Linked DNA regions of Homo sapiens. The protein of the gene in region 1 purifies or fractionates together with the protein of each later gene. This does not show direct contact. Each region holds a gene or a part of one and is shown on either strand. Other genes may lie near its edges.

Evidence for each region.
Region 2: the proteins of PDYN (region 1) and ACAD11 purify together in Homo sapiens (affinity purification with mass spectrometry; 3 studies listed by BioGRID and IntAct, with this or other methods). This does not show direct contact.

Annotation. Positions count from the first base shown.
Region 1 is NC_000020.11:1,978,151-1,981,379, reverse strand, and holds the end of PDYN (proenkephalin-B preproprotein), read left to right. Parts: intron 1-421; coding exon 422-1,057; 3' UTR 1,058-2,621; downstream 2,622-3,229.
Region 2 is NC_000003.12:132,562,185-132,566,013, reverse strand, and holds part of ACAD11 (acyl-CoA dehydrogenase family member 11), read left to right. Parts: intron 1-3,829. UniProt on the Homo sapiens protein: Acyl-CoA dehydrogenase, that exhibits maximal activity towards saturated C22-CoA.

The DNA.
Region 1 (3,229 bases):
GCTGCACTTCTCTGTCCCACTTTACCAAGAGTTAGCAGTGTGCTTCACACCTGCAGAAGCCTGGGAGAGAATTTGTATTTTTAGTGGAGATGGGGTTTCCTGTCTGGGAGTCAGACGTGGAGGGGGAAAGGTGAGCACGCAGAACACTACGGGAAGATCTTACTTCCAATTCTGGCAATTGCCACCTGCAGCCATGTGTCCTGGGTCTAAAGCCATTTCACCTCTCCAGGTCTGTCTTCTCTTTCTCACAGGCACAAAGTCCCCTACCTTTATGCACCACCAGTAGTATGAACATGGGTAGCCCAGGGCTTAGCAGTGGCGTTCATTTTGGTTTTCTCAGACACTGGACAGGGGAGCCTGGGGCAGACCAGTGCATGTGTTTTGATCATTTGCCACTGTGGTCTTTTTGGGTCTTTTGCAGATTTGCTCCCTGCAATGCCAGGCTGCCCTGCTGCCCTCTGAGGAATGGGAGAGATGCCAGAGCTTTCTGTCTTTTTTCACCCCCTCCACCCTTGGGCTCAATGACAAGGAGGACTTGGGGAGCAAGTCGGTTGGGGAAGGGCCCTACAGTGAGCTGGCCAAGCTCTCTGGGTCATTCCTGAAGGAGCTGGAGAAAAGCAAGTTTCTCCCAAGTATCTCAACAAAGGAGAACACTCTGAGCAAGAGCCTGGAGGAGAAGCTCAGGGGTCTCTCTGACGGGTTTAGGGAGGGAGCAGAGTCTGAGCTGATGAGGGATGCCCAGCTGAACGATGGTGCCATGGAGACTGGCACACTCTATCTCGCTGAGGAGGACCCCAAGGAGCAGGTCAAACGCTATGGGGGCTTTTTGCGCAAATACCCCAAGAGGAGCTCAGAGGTGGCTGGGGAGGGGGACGGGGATAGCATGGGCCATGAGGACCTGTACAAACGCTATGGGGGCTTCTTGCGGCGCATTCGTCCCAAGCTCAAGTGGGACAACCAGAAGCGCTATGGCGGTTTTCTCCGGCGCCAGTTCAAGGTGGTGACTCGGTCTCAGGAAGATCCGAATGCTTACTCTGGAGAGCTTTTTGATGCATAAGCACCTCTTTTCATGGAGTAGAGTCAGGAGAAACCCCTGACACCTTTTCAGGTTGGAGTGCATTCATTCATCCTCTTATATGTGCCCCTTCCCCATGCTCAGCTCAGCATTGTGTACAAAATATCCAAGCCCAGCCTATCTCTCTTCTGCGTGGGAGTATGTTATTTCTCTGGGGTCTGTGATGGGGAAGGGTGGATGTCCCTTCCCCACAATAGGCTTAGTGCTTGGCTCAGACACCTAGACTCTAAAACTATCAGCAGCGGCAGCAGCAGCAGCAGCAGCAGTTTGTGATCTGTCCTTCCAACCTGTTCACGTGACTCCTCAATTCCAGGGAACCAGAGCGATGTGTTCTTTGTACCTGTAGGTCTATGATGTCCAAACTTAACAGATCACATGCCCCTCTTAGAAGAAATATGAGCATGCTCCCTCATGCAGATAGTATACACATCATAAACAAAGAGTAGAACTTTAAAAGAAGGTAAATAATCATACACAGAAATCCTAACATTATATTCCCAAATCTCAAAAGATCTCCTGTGCACCTGACTTTGGAGACGATGCTTTAGGTAAAAAGCTTAAACATTGCCTTATATTGGATCAGGAACCCTTACAGTAGAGGGTCCAGTCTTCTAGTGGGTTTAATGTTTAGTCAGTGTACTCTGAGTCCTCATTGTTCAGAAAAGCACCTCTTGAAGAACTGACTTCCTGAACTCCCAGTCATGTTGGTACCCTGGACAGTGCCTAACTCCTTACAGAAGGGAGTGAAAACCTCTTTCGGAAATGATTGAGAGCAGCCTCTTGAATGCTTAAATGATCAAGGAGGGAGAAAGGCAAACCAATTTGTTCTGTGCAACAAACTCAAAATGTGGACCAGTTCCCTCAGCCCTCATTAAACTAATTAAACTGATGGGTATCATGCTTCTACTCCATGGTGAACTGAAGCAGAGTCAAGCTGATGAAGTTAAGCACAACCATGTTCTTGAGCAGCTGAATTGGCTGCCAAGAGTCCAAGCCATCTGGCCCAACATACGCACTGGGCATTGGGTAAGGGACTCCAGAAGCAGCAGCTAGAAAGAGAAAAAGCCCTCTTCAATCCCCATAATGCTTCTTTCCTCTTAATGTCTCAAAATAAAACCAGAAAGAGGAATAAAATGATTAAGTGCTTGAGGCCAAATGAGTTCCCTTGATTCAAATAACCCTGAATCAGAGGCAGAGACCTCCTGATGTCTTGGTTTCCATCAAAGCCCTCCCTGTCTGTCTGTCTCTCTTTTGCTCTCTCATTCCCAGGCACTCTCTTTTGGTTTGTGGGTCCAGGAGATGAGGCTGGATAGGAGAGGAAAAGGCTTGAGTCTGGATAATTTGTATAAGATGCTGCTGAGCACATCTCTTCATGCGCAGTCCCCAGGTATCTGATGATGTTCTGAAATGGATAGATTGTTTTAGAGTTATTTTGTGTCCTTTAAAAAAATCCCATTTATGCAATTTACTTGGAATTTGCTTAGCCTTTAATAGGCTTGTGTAATTTCCTGCTCCTCCAGTACAATAAATAAAAGAAAGATGCTGATGACTTGGTGGGTGTGTGTGTACGTGCACGTGCACATGTGTGTGAGCCTCAGTCCTCAGAGAGAAAAAAAATTTGCAGAAAAGAGTGCTAGGGAATAAAGAAGAGTTACACACACACACACACACACACACACACACATATTCAGGTTGGAAAACCAAGTGTGGGATAACAGAAAGAGCAAAAACTGTGAAGTGTCACAGCTTTAAATTGGAACATTGGATCTGTGCGACCTTGAGTAAGCCATTTGGCTTCTCTCAGCCTTAGTTCCTGCCTCCATAAAATAAAGACTAATAGTGCCAATTTTGTAGAGTTGCTGTGAGGATTAGAGGAGCTCATATATGCAAAGATCCTGGTACACAGTAGGTGCTCAGTAAATGAGTTTTTTTTCCTACATTGTCTTAAGGGATGGTGACAAAGCTTGAGCATTAAGCAACACAATGAGGAGAGTGGGGAGAGGTGCTGCAGAGGGAGTCTGCATCCCACATAATTCCCATGGGCTGTTTTCTATGCTAGATGACCAGGACAGGAGATAGAGACATGTTCCCAGACAAGGATGAGTGAGTTAGGGATGGAGGATGCTGTAGCCATGGGTGGCATAATGTCCTTTA
Region 2 (3,829 bases), on another chromosome or scaffold:
CTAACATCTCTGTTATCTGGGTGTGTTAGTCCATTTTATAGTGCTATTAAGGAATACCTGAGACTGGGTGATTTATAAAGAAAAGAGGTTTTGTTTGGCCCATGGTTCTGCAGGCTGTACAAGCCTAATGCCAATGTCTATTTCTGGGGAGACCTCAGGAAGCTTACAATCATAGTGGAAGGTAAAGGGGGAGCCAGCACATCACGTGGCAACAGAGGGAACGAGAGATAAGGGGGGACATCCCAGACTCTTTTAAACAATCAGATCTCATGTGAACTCATTACTGAAGAGAAGGCATAAAACCATTTATGAGGGATATTCCCCCATGACCCTCCCACTAGGTTCCACCTTCATGTTTCAATATGCGATTTGGAGGAGACAAGCATCCAAACTATATCACGGTGTCTCTTTATTTTTTAAAAATTAATTTTGAATTGTTCCAGGTTTTTGGTATTATGGGTGATTTATAAAATTGAAACCTGAACAGTTTTATACTGTGAGACTCTGGACCTTTTTAAACCTTCTTGGCTTTCTTTGACACCATTCTGTCAGAGAAAGGAGTGGCATCACCTCATTACTGCTAGGCAGAGAGAGAAGTCCAGGTTCCCCTCCCAGCTTCCATCAGTACCTGAAGAGGATGATGCCCTCATACTGCCAGGTGGGATGAAAGTCCAGGCATCCCATTTGGACTGCACTAACAACCCATAAGATGGGTTGGGGGGACTTATTACTGGCCAGTGGGGAGGAAAGCCTCAGGTTTTTACTTGGCACTGTCTGATACCTTCCTGGCAGGGGAGCTGGGGCACCTCATTACAGTGCTTGCCAGGGTGGAAGCCTACGCTCCCCATCCTGCCTTTGCTGGTGTGAGGAGTGGTGGGGGCCAATGTTTTTTCTGTGGTGTTTGGCTGGAGTAAAGTGGTTATTCTCTAAAAGATTTTTGGCTTGCTAGGCTGCATCTTTCCTGATCCTTTGGTTAGAGAGATTATACTTTTGTTGGGGTGCTTTATGTTTTTGTTTTGTTTTGGTCTGTGCTCACTGACATTTCCAGGTTACTAGATTCTTCAGCTGCCGGGAAGAACCTCAGCAGCTGAGATATATGAGGCAAAAAGAAAACCTAGGAAACACACCACTAGGTTATTCTTTTGGACCTGAAGTCCCTAAATAGTCTGCCTTTTCTCTACCTTTCAGAGTCTTCTTATGTTTGTTTTATAGATAATGCCCAGGGTTATTAGTTGTACTTAACAGAAGGAATAGAGAAAAATATATCGATTCCATCCTTGTTAGAAGCAGAGGATATCAGACATACTTATTTTCTTAGTCTGTGTAGGCTGTCTGTAAGCCACAATGCAGAGCTCTCTGGGAAAACATGGATTGGAGAATGGGGTCTGGAGCCAAGGCTGAAGTAGAGTCTCCTCCATTCCAGATCTAGGACTTGGGACCCACACGCTCTAGTATGTGTACAAAGCACATAAAGTTAACAATTTAGATGAAGTAGACCAATTCCTCAAATCCCATGAACTATCAAAACTCACCGAAGATGAAGTAGATAACCTGAATAGTTCTACAACTATTGTTAGAAGTTGAATTCAAAGTTAAAAAGCTGCTGAAAAAAGAAATCTTCAGGCCCAGATGGTATTACTGGTAAATTCTACTAAACAGTTAGAGAAGAAGTAACACCAATTTTACATATCTATTCCAGAAATAGAGAAGGAGGAAACACTTGTCAACTCATTTTATGAGGCCAGAATCATCCTAATCCAAAACCAGACAAGAACAAACCATAGACCAATATAGATGCAAAAACCACCAGCAAAGTATTACCGAATAGAATCTGGCAGTATGTAAAAATAATCATACAGCATAATCAAGTAGGGTTTATCCCACAAATGCAAGCCTGATTCATGTCTATAACTCGATAATTAAAAATAAATTATTATAATCTGCCAAACTAACAGCAAAAACTGCATGAACATTAAAAAAATCACATGATCATATCAATTGATGCTTTGGCATTTGACAAAATTCAGCATCTGTTTATGATAGAAACTTTCAGCAAACTGGGAATACAAAGGAATTTACTCAACTTTATAGAGAGTATTTTTAAAAATCTAACATCATACTTAATGATGAAAGACTAAATGCTTTTCCCCCAAAACTGGAAATGAGGCAAGAATGTTCACCCTCACTATTCCAATTTATGATCATAGAAGAATTCCTAGGCAGTGCAGTAAAACAAGAGAAAAAAAGTGCATGTAGTTGGGGGAAAAAAGAAGTAAAACTGGGCCTGCTTGTAGATGACAATGTGATTGTATAGAAAATCCTAAGGAACGTATCAAACAAAACGAAACAACCCTCCCAGAACTAATAAGTGAGTTTAGCAAAGTCACAGGATACAAGGTCAGTACGTAACAATTTTATTTTTATATACAAGCAATGAACAATGGGGGAACTGAAAGTTTTAAAATACCATTTACAACAGTTTTTTTTAAGTACTACTCTACCAAAACACGTACAATATCCACATGCACTAAAAAGTAGAAAAAAGTGATATAATAAATCAAAGGAGACCTAAGTAAATATGTAGATTAGAAGACTAACAGATTAAAGATGTTAACCATCCTCAAATTGATCTGCAGACTTAAGGCAGTTCCAATCACAGTCCCAAAAGGACAATTTTGTAGATAAAGACAGACTGATCCTAAAATTTATATGGAAATACAAAAACACTAAAGTAGCCAAAACAATTTGAAAAAGAAGAAAGCTCAGTGAATCACACTACCTAATCTTAAGACTTACTCTAAACTACAGTAATCAGTGAGCAAAAGGCATGTAGATCTTTGGAGCAGAAGAGAGAGTCCAGGAATAGATTCATAGAAATATAGGCCAATTAATTTTTTACATAGGTGCAAAGGCAGTTCAATGGAAAAGGTTACATCTTTACAGTAAATGGTGTTGCAGCAATTGGACATAGATAGGCAAAAGAGGGACCCTTGATCTAAACCACACACCTCACACAAAATTTTAACTCTAAATGGATCATAGATCTAAATGTAAAAGGTAAAGCTGTAAACTTTTAGAAGAAAACATAGTGGAAAAATCATTTTCTGGGATTAGGTAAAATGTTCCTAAACATGCACCAAAAGCAAGGCTCATAAAAGAAAGAATTGACAGATTTCTCATGTGGCAAATGACTAGCGTCCTGAATATATGAAGGACTCTCTAAATCAAATAGTAAGAAAACAACCCAATTAAAAAATGGACAAAAGACTTTAACAGACATATCACCAAAGAGGTATAGAGATGGCAAATCAGTACATTGAAGGGGATCAACAGCAGTAGCCATTACAGAAATGCAAATTAAAACCATGATATCTCTGCACACTTAAAATGACTAAAATAAAATATGATACTAAGTGCTGATGGTTTGAGGAGCAACTGGAACTCTCATACACTGCTAGTAGGAATGCAAAATGTACAACCACTCTAGAAAACTGTCAGCTTCTTAATAAACATTTACCACTGACCCAACAATTCTACTCCTGCTATCTGCTTTAAAAAATGAAAACATGTCCACACAAAAACCCGTATACAAATACACAGAAACTCTATGAATAATCTCGCGATGGCTCACGCCTGTAATCCCAGCACTTTGGGAGGCCGAGGCAGGCAGATCACAAGGTCAGGAGTTCAAGACCAGCCTGGCCAATATGGTGAAACCCTGTCTCTACTAAAAAATACAAAAATTAGCCAGGCATGGTGATGGGCGCCTGTAGTCCCAGCTACTCAGAGGCTGAGGCAGGAGAATCGCTTGAACCCAGAAGGTGGAGGT